Regions from separate parts of the Homo sapiens genome. Here region 1 is reported to be linked to region 2. Evidence: microRNA targets listed by miRTarBase, many of them from high-throughput screens and not tested one by one. Region 2 holds a microRNA gene; the other region holds the end of a gene's coding sequence.

What was found. The annotated mature microRNA hsa-miR-3120-5p reads CCUGUCUGUGCCUGCUGUACA and lies in region 2 at 3,229-3,249, shown strand. An mRNA with a match to its seed (bases 2 to 7 or 8) in the 3' UTR can be bound and repressed. Matches are read on the target gene's strand: a 7mer-m8 pairs with bases 2 to 8, a 7mer-A1 pairs with bases 2 to 7 and ends in A, and an 8mer does both.
Region 1: the mRNA of C6orf141 is a reported target of hsa-miR-3120-5p. The part of its 3' UTR that is shown has no 7-base or 8-base seed match.

The regions. Positions count from the first base shown.
Region 1 is chr6:49,550,298-49,557,419 of GRCh38, reverse strand. It overlaps C6orf141 (chromosome 6 open reading frame 141), which reads right to left and starts at 6,752. Exons shown (of 1, transcript NM_001145652.2): 1 at 5,325-6,752. The coding sequence starts at 6,627. The coding sequence ends at 5,893. RefSeq lists enhancers at 5,432-5,951, 5,968-6,037 and a silencer at 6,708-6,767.
Region 2 is chr1:172,135,592-172,142,713 of GRCh38, forward strand. MIR3120 (microRNA 3120) reads left to right here and starts at 3,217; the gene lies at 3,217-3,297. The region is part of intron 14 of DNM3 (dynamin 3); the gene reads left to right. DNM3OS (DNM3 opposite strand/antisense RNA) reads right to left here. Exons shown (of 4, transcript NR_103486.1): 3 at 6,545-6,622; 4 at 1,288-5,005. It overlaps MIR214 (microRNA 214), which reads right to left and starts at 3,316; the gene lies at 3,207-3,316.

The DNA.
Region 1 (7,122 bases), not on the chromosome of region 2:
TTGCCCTACCTGCCTTCGCTTTCCTGCCAAGCACAAATGATGTTGGCTGACTCTCTTATTATAGCAAGCTCTGCAAACACAGCCTCTGTTTGTTCTATTTTGGGGAGGGCTGCAGTCTCCTCAAAATACTCTTGTTCTGTTTATTTATTAATTATTATTATTATTTTGAGATGGAGTTTTGCTCTTGTTGCCCAGGCTGGAGTGCAATGGCGCGATCTCAGCTCACTGCAACCTCCTCCTCCTGGGTTCAAGTGATTCTCCTGCCTCAGCCTCCTGAGTAGCTGGGATTATGGGCATGCACCATCACCTCGGCTAATTCTGTATTTTTAATAGAGATGGGGTTTCTCCATGTTGGTCAGGCTAGTCTTGAACTCCTGACCTCAGGTGATCCACCTGCTTTGGCCTCCCAAAGTGCTGGGATTACAGGCGTGAGCCACCGTGCTTGGCCTCTTGTTCTGTTTTAAGGTTAGAAATGTAAGTTTGAATTTGGTTAGTTCCTTGCTTTGAAGATAACCAAGTCTTAATGTTTTGTTTGTGACTATTGGCTGCATAATGCCTGAAAACCAATCATAACTCCTTACTCTCTCCAAAGTAATCTGGACTTTATCTTCATCTAGAGAAGTAAATTCACAGATTTGCCCTCCCTAATTACAGAGCAAAGTACTGACTGCAGTTATAGAGATGTCATGGTGTTCAAGAGTCACAGCCCTTTGTTTACTTATCTGAATCAGTTGATTCAAATTCTGGCTCCACCTTTTCCCCACCCCTCTCAATTCATCACAAGTGGCTGACAAGTTCTGACTCAGCCTGCAGAGTTGCAATTGTGCAATGTGTTAATGACTTCCTGCTTTTTCACCTTTACAGGAGTTTTTTATAATGTATTATTTCATATTCCTAGACAACAAAATAGCCATATTTCTGAAATAGTTTGAAATTCAATGATGAGTCAATGGTTCATTAGGACAAACTTTCAAATAATAAGGCTCTTTAAAAAAGACACTATAAAGCTTCATAGAGATCTCTTCGCCAATTTACCCATTCATATCCTCTATCTTTCACCTTCCTGTAATCTTTAACTGTGTTCAAAACTCTATGAATTATTATCTTCATGGCATTGTTAACAATTAATTGGGAATACAGAATAAAAAAACTTTTCAGTTTTGGTAAGTGACAAAATAGGATACAGAACTAAATATATGAGAATATGTCAGTGTTTCTCAAACTTTAATGTGAATCATCCAATGATCTTGACAAAATGCGAATTCTGATTCAACAGATCTGGAATGGGGCCTGAGATTCTACTTTTCTAAAAACCTTCTTGGAGATGCCCACGCTGCCGTTTCACAGAACGCCCATCTTGAGTAGCATCAGTATATGTTTGTTTATATACAGATCATATTCAGAAAATATACAGAGGTTACATTAATACTACTTTATATAGTTTATGCTTAGAAAGATGTATGTATATATGTAGGTATATTCACATGAAAATACAATAAAATAAAACCACACTTGGCCAGGCATGGTGGCTGATGCCTATAAGCCCAGCATGTTGGGAGGCCAAGGCAGGAGGATTGCTTGAGTCCAGGATTTTAATACTAGCCTGGGCACGCCAGGTGCGCGGTGGCTCACGCCTGTAATCACAGCACTTTGGGAGGCTGAGGTGGACAGATCACGAGATCAGGAGATCGAGACCATCCTGGCTAACATGGTGAAACCCCATTTCTCCTAAAAATACAAAAAATTAGCCGGGCGTGATGGCGAGCGCCTGTAGTCCCGGCTGCTCGGGAGGCTGAGGCAGGAGAATGGCATGAACCCGGGAGGCAGAGCTTGCAGTGAGCGAAGATTGCGCCACTGCACTCCAGCCTGGGCAACAGAGCGAGGCTCCGTCTCAAAAAAAAAAAAAGACTAGCCTGGGCAACATAGCAAGGTGCTGTCTCTATAAAACAAAAACAAAACAAAACAAAAAATTCATGCTTGAAACTTGCCAAATATTAAAAGAGATTTGGGGTCATCTGTAAATTTTTGTTTCCTTTATTATATCTTCTTTTTCTTCATAATATTTTCCCAATTTTTATGCAGTGTATACAACTGTTTCTTTTAATAAAAAGTTTTTTTCTTTTTCAAAGCAAAGAGCCACATCAAGTTTTATCACCAAGCACTGGTAACATCCAACAAAAATAAGCAGTAAGTCAAATGTAATGATTCCCAAAAGGAGATCATGGTTGTAAACAAAGAGTTTTAAGAGAGGATAACACTTGCCTGATCCTGGGGGTTATGCGATTCTGACATTTATCTTATGGTCACTGGAGTGGCTTCTGGAAGTCTTTGATGCGGTTCATCCACCTAACACAATTTTAGATAATCATGTTTTTCAGAGGAGTAGAGGTAAGATCAAAGAGCCAAGATCCAGTCATTCTCAGAGATTTCTTAGTATTGAGGATGCCCAAGTTTCACTTTGGATGCACTCCCAGGACATTTGTAAACGGGATAAGATTTCTCAGGCTCTTCAAATAACAGGGTTCTGCTTGGATCAGGAACACCTGTGAAGCAAATTCAACAGTATTTGGACTTACTACTTTTTGTTTCCAATGAAAAGGAACTCTATATTAAATGAAATCTATAAACATGTTCTAGGCAGTTAATAGGGAAGTTGAGTAAGCACTTTAAAAATAAATTTTCATTGCTTGAAACAGTGAGAAAAGGAAAAAAAAAATCACTTAAAATTAACTCAAACAGGCCGGGCATGGTGGCTCAGGCCTGTAATCCCACCACTTTGGGAGGCCGAGGCGGGCGCATCACAAGGTCAAGGAGATCGAGATCATCCTGGCTAACACGGTGAAACCCCGTCTCTACTAAAAATACAAAAAAACTAGCCAGGCATGGTGGCGGGCGCATGTAGTCCCAGCTACTCAGGAGGCTGAGGCAGGAGAATGGTGTGAACATGGGAGGCGGAGCTTGGAGTGAGCAGAGATCGTGCCACTGCACTCCAGCCTGGGCGACAGAGCAAGACTCTGTCTCAAAAACAAAACAAAATTAACTCAAACATATTTGGTTTAAAGGAGTTAAGCTAACTTGACTAAATACGTTTTTGGCTGAAAGACAAAATGAAAACAAATTGTGTCTATTCTGCTTTTCTAGACAACAGGGCATCAGATTTAAAATCCCAGAGGGAAAACAAACTAACCTGACAGGTCAAAGAAAGTATTCAAAGCTCCCATCTGCCCAGAACTAGGAGGTATGTAAACTCTTTTCAGTGACTGTTAAGGATAGTGTACCTTAGTCCTTTGAGCTTTACCATGAGTCCCTACAGAAGATGTGAAGGTCATTTCTAAAGAATTTAAGAAATATACTTACTGATCCATTAAAGGTTAGGAAAAGCTAGAAATAAGTCCTTTCTTTCAGGAGTAGAGAAGAGTCTTATTAAAAACCACCGGCTTGACTTTCATTAGCTTTCTTGTGTTATACAATTTCTGCTTTTTGTTACTAAACAAAAGACTAAAGCCTAGTTAGGATGAAAAGTGAACTAAACAATAACCGTGCTAATAATAAAAAATGTAACTAACTTTGAGGATTTATTGTATGACAGGCAGGGTTCTAAGTATTTTCATTTAACTTAACCCTAAAAAAAAAAAACCCTCTATGAAGTTGATACTATTTATTGTCCCCACTTAACAAATCAGGATACAGAGGCACACAGAGATAAGGCAACTTGCCCAAGGACACAAGTTAATAAAGAGGTAGAGCCAGTTTTGAACCCAAGCAGCTGAACGCCAGAAATTGCCTCCAGAGAAGGCAGCTGAGTGATGCTACTTACCATTTTTGGTTATTGTGAAAGAGACTTTTTTTGTTCTCTATATTCAATGATTAGTCACCTGGGACATGTGATGATTCAACCAAATTAATAAGCTCAGGTCTGAAACTTACATGCCAAGTAAGTTAATCTCCCACTGGAGTCAGGGAGGGTTGTTAAGGAAAAGAGATTCATTTTAAGGGATGAATCTTTTCTACCTGTCAAGCAATTTTGAACACAGATGAGCTCAGATGCTGAATTCCTCTCCCAAGTGAGGGTCTCACAGGCCTAAGAACTGCTAGTGATGATTCTCCAGCCAAGAGGCCTTGCAGAATTCAGGAACATTAAGGTGATTCTAGTACTTCTCATAAACATGAGTTAGAAAACCTAAGATATTGGCCAGGCATGGTGGCTCATACCTGTAATCCCAGCACTTTGGGAGGCGGAGGCAGGAGGATCACCTGAGGTTGGGAGTTCAAGACCAGCCTGGCCAACATGGAGAAACCCCATCTCTACTAAAAATACAGAATTAGCCGGGGTGATGGCACATGCCTGTAATCCCAGCTACTGAGGAGGCTGAGGTAGGAGCATCGCTTGAACCCTGGAGGTAGAGGTTGTGGTGAGCCAAGATCGTGCCGTTGCACTGCAGTCTGGGCAACAAGAGAGAAACTCTGTCTCAAAAAAAAGAAAAAAATAGAAAAAGAAAGAAAACCTAGGATATCCTCAGGCATCTTTTGACCCCTAAGTAAGGGTCAAATAAATCCTCTAAAGGCTGCCCCAAACCTTTAGGAGGGAGATTATCACATTCTTCATCCACTTAGTAAGCATATGCAATTACTAGCTGTGTGACTTAGACATGCTACAAGACCTCTAGGCCTAGGTTGGCTCATGAGTAAAACAGGGGCATCTTATCTATCTGGCCTGCCAGGAGGCAAGAGGTAGATCAGATGATCTTTTGAGAACACTTCAAGCTCTAAACTAAAAATGAAGGCAAAAGGGAAGACTGGGGAAGGAGGCACTTTTCAACTATTTGCTCATCAAAAGCCAGAGTCCTACCTGCTTTGTTAATTCTTGCAGTAAATACTCCTTCAGGTGGTAAAGTCAAGCAGTTCACCTGGAGAGGGCTGCTTTGCTCCTCACAGAGCTTCAACCAGGCCAACTACTAAAGAGTTAATTCACATAGTATTTAATAATAAAGAGGAACAAACAAAATAAGAAAAATTAGTTGTTTCAGTATTACCAGAGGAGATTTTTTTGAACTACACAAGGAGAATGGTATCTTCAATCTATTCTTGACTACAAGTCTCATTAATGAAGAACTATGGAAAAGAATAAGACATGCATTCATTTTATGGCAAACTACATATTGCTATCTACCTTTAGTTCAGAACATTTACATGCAGTATTTTTAATATTAAAATTAAAATGTATGATAAATGCATGTTTACAGGACTAAATTAGCTATTGTTTGCAGTAAAGCCTTTGTAAATGGAATTTCACGTTGAAATCTTAGTCTTCTGTCCCCAACTCCTTCTTTCCCTAGCTCCTCTCGTTTTCTTTCTAACACTGAAATGTGGGGGAGAAAAATGAAAAGTGCACATCAGAAGAGAGTCACTTGCTGCTTTGGTTTTACTTTCCCATTTCTTTTTACTTTCTGTTTTTGGCTTTTAAAACAAGCCTCTTCTCCACCCACTCCCACCCTCTTTGCAGAGAGCAGACTTCAAACTTCACTTCTGTTTCTAGGTCCTAAAGAGAAACAAGAGGGGGGCGGGGAACAGAAAAGAGATCAATTGAGAGTTATTCCAAAATGCAAATTAACAACAGGTTTTCTCATTTCAAAACTCCCACATTCTGCCAATCTGAAAATATCTTTTCTCCACCTCTTCTGAATGACTTAGGTCCCCAGACAGCGAAGGAATTCAAGCCACAAAGGAGGTATTATGCTGCTTACAGTTCTTAATCTGCCTCCCCGAAGCGCTGCACCAGCCTCTCAAAAGGTTCCTTCTGTAGGTTAATTGCAGGTTGGAGCTCCCAGAATAGCATTTTCTTTTAAGGATGATCGCTCATCCACCATCCCGGAACATTTCTCGAGCTACTCATTAGAGTTTAATTTCCTCGAGCCAAGTCCCTGGAGACGGTGAAACCCTCCTCCCCGCGGCGTGGACGCGGGATGCCCCTGTTCGTGCCTGGAGAGCCCGGGATTCAGCAGGGCCCCAGCGTTCCCCAGGCTGTCCCTCTCTACTGCTGCGAAAAGTGAGCGCGGTCACGAAGTGCTCCTCAGTCCTCGTGGTCATGCGACCCTTGGCCCAGGAGGTCTGCAACACTTCTTGTGTTACCTGATAATCCTCCACCCGCACAAGCACGTATTTGGGTGGGTCTGCTGCGTCCCGCGGCGGGGCTACACGCCTGCCAGAAATTCGCTTTTGTCGTTGAAAGACAGAAGGGTAGTTGGGCTCCTCGCCGTGGTCCTCTCCACCCGCATGAGGAAGGTCCTCTGCACCGGCCACCTCTTCCCGTGCAGGGTCCCCTCGAGTCCCTAACCACCTCTCTGGGTGCAGGAGAAAGAGCACTTTCTCTCTGACCCAGGACTCACGGTCCAATTCCTCCCCGGCCCGAGGTCCGAGGGCCCGATCTGCCGTTCTGTCCTCGTGGCCGCCGCCCTGGCTTCGGCTCGCCCCTGCCGTCGCGGGATTCCGGGCGCCCGGAGCTAGCGGAGCCCCGCGCCCTACCTCCCGCGGAAAAGGCCCGAGGTCCCCCAGGCTGCGGGAGGAGTCCATGGGATTCGCAGCTCCCTGAGGCCCCCGGGTCTCCATCCTGGCAAAAGGGTCATTCATTCGTTCCTTCTTTGACCGGTTCAAGCAGCAAGCGCCTGCTGAGCTCCGGAAAGCGCGGGACCACCAAGCCCTGGGTGTGGCCTCTGCTGCAGCTCCGGACTCCCAGCCGGTGAAAGCTGAAGACTAGATCAGCCCCAGGCTAACCGCGTGCGGAACCCGCCTCTTCACCCTCCGCCTCTCCCACCTGGCGGCTGTCTAGCCATTCAGAAGAAGCTTGACACAAGCCCCAGTCACTCCTCTTCTTCCTCCTACCCCTGTCCGGAGCCCTGCTCCCTTTGTCATTCGCTGATTCAGTCCCCTCTTACTTTTCACCTCTATCCTAGTTTCCCACCCACCTTTCGTTTTTCTCCGGAGCTGAGGCGCAAAGGACACCCTCGCACTGCGCCCCCACTGAAATGCCCCGAAGTATGTTTGCTTTCCAAGGACGCTCCTTGAGGTGAAGGAACAAAGAAGTTTGTGTGCATTTTAATTAGCTGATCTAATTCTGAAAAGGGT
Region 2 (7,122 bases):
TTCCCAATGTTGTTTTCATACATTGCCCATATATGTTGTACATTTTTGGAAAGGGATTTAGTAAAAAGCAAGATGTGAGAATAAAACAGAAACTGTCATTTCAAAAGTTTTTTGAAATGGATTTTTGATCTAGATAATTTTACATTAATACTTTAAAATCAGACTTGAAAAAAATGATGGCTTTTCTTTAACTTATGTCTAAAATGTGAATTTTAGGAGAATGGGAGACCCTGATTCAAGGAGAAAAGAGCCTTATTTTTCTTAAAACCAATGAGAAATTTGTTTTAAAAATACATAAATATGTAAATTTTAAGAGATAATTCAAATCTCTGAAGAAAGAGGACTGTTAATTTATGTATAATAAAAGCACTTAGTCAATATTTATTCTATTTCTATAGCCCAGTGTGTAAAGATTTAAATCATAATGAGCTACTCCTAGGCAAGCAGAATAATGCAACATAGGCGTTTCCAGTGGAAATCTGCTAACCTTATACTATTGAGGAAAACCCAACATCTGCATTGAAATAAGGACATTCTTTGGACTCTTAAGAAATTACAGGCCTCATTTTTGTGGGTTGAAGTGTTTGGATAACTTGATAAGGAGATTATATAATTCCCTTATAGGGATATTTACTTAGCATTGTTTTCATTTTGTAACAATAACAAATGACAAATGTAACTTCAGAAATAGGAAACAAAATGACAGTTATATCCCTGGATGATCAAAGTTGTGAGATCAAGAAGTTATAGAAATATTCAGCTCTCTTTCTAGTTTCACTTATACTTTTAAGATTGTGCATATTTCCTACCAGATCTGCACACTCCCTGTGGTGGAAAAGGTCAGCGTCGACCCTGTGAACACTGTTCACACTCCTTCGTTAAGTTATTTAGTTAGCCAAAACTTAGATATTTTCACAAAAGTCCCAGTAAATATTGAACTCTAATCCACTTATATTACTTAAAATTCTGCATGATCACAGTTGTATATTTTTTTACATACATAAACTATCTGATGTTATTCTTTTTTAATATAGGATTATTCATACAAATATTTCCATGTTCTGGTATTATCTAAAGATTTATAATTTTGAAAAAAAGAGTATTATTCAATAAACCATAATGGCCAATCCTATTCCAAATTTATTAAAAATGAGTTTAGATTCAAACCCACTCCCCTATATGCATTATTTGTCCCACTCAAAAGTTTATCCTGGAAGAGCAATATTATCCTTTATATTACCCTTTCCCAGAAGAGAAAAATTTTTAAATGTGCCTCATTTAATGACTTTAAAATACATACAAAACATTCTTTCAAGCATTTTTTTTGAAAATTGAGTAAAAAATGTTTAACAAAAAAGGTGTTAACTTTATGTTTTAAGGAAAAATATTGAAAATGTTATCCTGGAGTGCCTCACCTTAGGATGACTCTGCTGCCGTCCTAGCTTTCCCTTTGGAGTCTGAAGGACGGGTGTAGTCTCCTTAATGTTCTGGCTAGGTCATTGTCTCATTCTGGGAGCTGTCAAGCACTCTCCTGAGCCTTGCAGGGTCCAGTAGAATAATTCCATACGTGAACTCTCATAGGCAGCATTTGCAACAGGTGGTACAAGGCATTTAAGATTGGGTAGAACGATGTCGATATTCTGTGAGTAATTTTTATATTGTCTTCCTGTTTATATTCTACATTTTGTAAGTATTGTTTAGGACTTTATTTGCTAGTAATGGGACTTTTATTTAAGGCAAAAATCTGCATCGTGCAATGTATCTTGCAGAAGCAGAGATGAATTTTAGCAGATGACATATTGCCATAAGACAAGATTGTTTAAATGAGAGAAATTTAACTTTAATCATATTTGTGCTTTGTAGTTTTGCCCCATCATTCAGTTTTTTAATTAAAGAAACTATAATGTCAGGTTTGGTTAAAATATCATTGTCAGAAAATTTGAAACTCACTGGGATCTTAGCTTTAAGACTGAGACTTTCATTTTAAAAATAAAATAGCTGAATGAAAAATAGTTTGCTTTAGTTAAGAATACATACATAAAGTGTTTAATTGTTAAATGTGAAAAAAGTTTTGAGTAGCCTTGTGTTACATTTTTTAAGCTTGACCAGAATCTAAGAAAGATGAAAATTAATTTCAAATACTGAAGCTAAAACATGTTAATGAACTAAATAAAAGTTGACACATTTCTAATTTTATCCATCTTCCCACCTTTTACCCTTAAGTATTTAAAGTATTCATAGACAAAAGCCATCCCTTATCATTTCACTCCAGTTAACAGTGCATAAACTGAAGTTTGGATATTTTCTCAAAAGATGTGTCAAAATATACATTTCAAGTGCATTAACCACTTTCCTTATGCTTCTGAAGATAAATGAATTGCCTGAACATCTCAAGATCTTGAAAGTTTATAGTGATGGAAGCATAGGTTGCAAGTGAATGTGTTGGCCTTGTAAATTCTACTCCTAGAACTGTAGCATAAGCACCTTCTTAATTAAAGAATGACGCAGTCATAAATTTATGTATACCATGACGCGTGGAAGTATCAAAAATTTCAACTTTCCATATGTCAAAAGAGGAGAAACTATTATTTTAATATAGTTGAACACTAGTTGGAAATAGTAGTCTTTTCACTGTGTTTTGCCCAGACCCAGACTGGCAGAGTTAACCCAGACTGGCAGAGTTAACTCAAAGCACTTGATCCTTTGGAATACTCTTTTTCTCCCTTTTCTTTTCTCTGTCTTTCCACCCTATCCCCTTCCAAAAAAAAAAAAAAAAAAAAAAAATCATGACATAGAAAACCATACTTAGTTTATGGACAAGAATTCTTAGAATAATTTATTCTTTGTTAAGCATCAGACTGAAGTTATATTGTTTTGTTATATTGAGTTTTTATATCAATATAGGGTGCTGCAAAGCTGTGTACAATAAAGGTCAAGGGTAGTGATTTGCTGACAACAATTAGGAAAAGAGAACTATAGAATGCACAGGAACATTTTCAGAAATGGGTTTTATTATATTTCATAGGCACCACTCACTTTACTTTTGGTGGGTTTTAATACTTGAATCAAAATAAAATAATACATGAGTTAAGTATTAAACCAACAGATTAAAACCCCAGGCCCCCGAGCCCCTCATTTTGGTTGTAGCTCTTGGTGTAGATGCTATGGTGTGAGGGCTGCTTTCTTTCAATGGCTGGTTGTCATTCAGGCTGGGTTGTCATGTGACTGCCTGTCTGTGCCTGCTGTACAGGTGAGCGGATGTTCTGCACAGCAAGTGTAGACAGGCAGACACATGACAACTCTGTCCAGCCAGGCCCTTGGTTCCTTCAGGTTTCCTTTGCTCATAGACAGATACAATCAGCCTGTTTTCCAGATTTGGTGATTTTGGAGAGTAAGGGGAAAGGGAGAAAAATACACAATATAATTAAACATTAAAACATTATGGAACTAAAAACAAGTTAGACTTTTGACTTTATTCAGAAAGTACATTTATACATTTGTTCCAAATGTGCTAACATGGATAATTTGCGTAACAGAAAACTCACATTAAAATTTTAAGGAAAAAAAGAGATTAAACACAAGGTTTATTCTTAAGTCCAATTCATATTATTACTGGCCCACATGTAGTCAGAGTTCAGCGTAATTGAACCAGATGTTTTTCCTCTTTGCAAAAAACTGCATATTTTAATACTGAAGTTAAAGATAAAAACTATGTTTATGCATGTTTCTTTTAGTAGATAAGTACCATAACCTTGTCCATGAAAAAGAAAATTATCATTTACATGGAAACAGCAGCCCTTTTCAAAATAATTAATGAGCCTAATTTATTTGGCAACCCAAGTTGCTGACTTTGGTATTTGATGCTCTGATAATAGGATCCTACAAGGGAATATGTTTTTACCAATTATATGTGAAACAACAGGAACCTATTTAAATGTCTCATTTTCCTTTTAAATGCAAAGTTTATAACTGTGGATGTGAAATCAAATTAAAGGCAGTTGTGAGCTTAAGTTATCCACCTCTTAATTAACTATAGGGCCATGCTGTGAATCAAAAGGGTACAAACTGGAAGGCTGTTACTCACAGTGATGCTCAGAATGTGTTTTGGATATAGTTAGTGCAATATAGTTACAAAATAGTACTTAAGAAAAGGCAGAAAAGGCAAATTCATTTCATATCCAAAAAATTAAAACCAGATCCTTTGAAAATTTTTCTTATAATTTATATGAGCTAATAGTGTTAAATATGCAGATATAAAATTTAATTCTGGTGAGTTGAGAGTAATTCTATTTTAATATCAATTATCAATTCACATCTTTAGAAGTATTAAGCAAATTCCCCTCCCCTTTTAAAAACAAAAATATCCAAATAGTCAAAATTCCAGTAAGTAGGACTTCTTAAAAAACACAGCACCAAAAAAACACAGTATTGTCCAAGGATTGTATAATTAGACATTTTCTCAAAGAACTTTAAGAAAAACAAACAGTTTGTGATTTATCTTTAATTGTAAAATTCTGAGAAAATAGCAAATAGAAACTTAATGGAAAGCAAAATAGTTTTAGATACTGAGAAAATTACAATTTTCTACAAATCTGGACTTTTATGCAGTGATTAGGTAAGGTAATGTTTTAACAAAAGCTAATAAGTGCCATTTTCTGTGTATTTATGTAATTTCAAGAAAACAAATTTCCGATTCTGTTTCGGCCATCACTTTCGAGTAAAGGAACTTTTTTTTTTTCTTGACAGAATCAAAAACATGAGTAAACTTGGCTGTTATTTAAATAATTACAAGGTTAGAGTATGCCAAAAACCAGTGCCTTAAAATACTATTGTGTTATTGTTGCTGCATTCAGTGCAACAGAAAGTAATTATAGAGTGATTCACTTACAAAGAGTATATTGGTGGAAATTAAAAATTACTATAATTCTTTATAACTTTTCCTCTCTCTCCCATAAATAATTTGATCCAGTTAACTCTGCTCAATTAAAGGAATGATGCATGCAACCTGAAAAAATAAAAAGAAATATTTGTGAGTTTGTATGTTATGCTTTAATATAAAACAGTTTTATTAAGGCAAGATATAAAAATTTTTTGAGCCAGAAAAACCACAACAGTTTTTCAGGGGAAAAAAAAAATCTTGCTGAAAACAATTGTTCTATTCATAAGGCTTTTGGACAATTTATGTTTCTGATAGATTTTTAAAACACACTTACAGTAACTATGTGACATATGCACACTTCATTGTTATGTTGAACCTGCCCCTAAACTTGTTAAAAAGATGAAAGACTGAAAACCATATTGACCTTTTTTTAATCTCCCAAATTATAGGTTGAATATTAGTTTATTATTACTTAAAATACTAGCTAAAACATAAAAGAGCTATTTGTATTATTATCATACCATGTAATTTTTAGTGTGGTTATTACACCTTGTTTTCTTTTTGTCTTTTATTTCTTAAGGAAAAAAATGTAAGAAAAGAATTGTCTTCTAAGTCTTCTGTAGTGAAATTAAACCAAAGCAACTCCAGGAAACTGGCTGTCACGCTAAGTCAAAAAATTCAAAATGAAGATTTAATTATTTTTCCTAATTTACTTCGTTATCTCTAACTATTAAAACTGATAAAAATTATTTGTAAGAGACCTTTGAAAATGAGTAAATATTTATTTCTACTTAATTTACAGAACATGAAAGTAAGAAGGGATTTGAAGTAAGAAAGTTTCTATCTTAACTCAGGAATTTCCTGTCTCAGGTTAAAGCCTGACCTTCTAGTTATTTTAAGCCAGGATTTCTGAGTGATGGTCTCTTAGTTATTATTTTGACGTTATTGTGATGGGTGGGCTATTCTCCTTAGAGCAGAGTAAAGTGCATTGTTTATAAAGAGCAGATCCCTTACAGAGTAAGTGAAAGCTTTGGCGTCTCTTTACCGAGCATGGATGCTTGTGGATGAGTGAATTTTTTCACATTACCAAGTTGTACTTTTTATATCTTATAACAGCTTAAGACTTCAACCAAAAAAGTGGGGAGAATTCTTTCGTTAGGATTTTTATGCCTAAACTGTTTCCCACAGAGTGAAATACATGGGTGGTCTGTAGGCGAGAGGTGGGGGTAGATAGTATATTTTGGTCTTTTACAAACATAAACATATTATCTGGGCCGAAAGCCCGAATGCCAAGCAGGAAGGATATTAAGCCTATTGACTAACTACAGGAAAGTGATCAGTGTGAAACTTTGTCCTATAGTAAACAGTCTTTCTTTGATTTTGAGATCTGTGGCCTAAAAGAAAAATGAGTTTGAAAATTTAAGTCCACCGTTTTAGATTGATCCTTTTCCAGTTAAGAAATTGTGGTGTTGAAGCTAAGGCTCTGAACTTCCTTTCTCTTAGATGGTGGAAAAGTCCTTTTAACCCAGTACCTAGTCCAATTTATCAATCATTCACATGCTAAAATGAAAAATAATTATGAAATTTCTATGAAGTGTAGTTTGGACAGACCCTGAAACAATTTTCTCTTCATGACCACATATAATGTTTAATTTTAATACTTACACTTATTACATCCAGGGGTAGTTTTAGTTGAAGATGCTCACTGTTGGTTAGTTTCCTCTGGAATAGATTCCATGATCCCTAAAATATTTGTATATCTCCTTATAAAGTAATATGAAAATAAAATTAAACATTTTTCTAATTTACCTGGATATAGATATGGCTATAATGTATATAAATGTGGGCGTGTGTACCAGCGCATAAACTACAATCCTGCCTTCATTCAGCAGAGCTTTATAAAATGAGCTTTTACCTTTGATCTTTAATTTAGCCCATATAATTGAAAAATAAGTACTATTCGTTTTCATTTGTTAAAACTTTGCCTCGAAAATAAGTCGCTAGAGCCACATCAAGCATGTGCAGGAACTCCTTGGTTATCCTTTTACAAAGTAATTCTTATATTTCTACTCCTGTACTTATGCCAGAGGCACCCTTATGTCCCTTCTATCTCCAGACTAAAAGTCATCCTGAGGGAGAAAATAGGTGAGGGACCCATAGGGATTCATTTCTTTGAAACAAAAAGACCGTTTAACATGAAGAAAGAAATTGAAATTAAATATACATTAAATGAAAGCAAATTT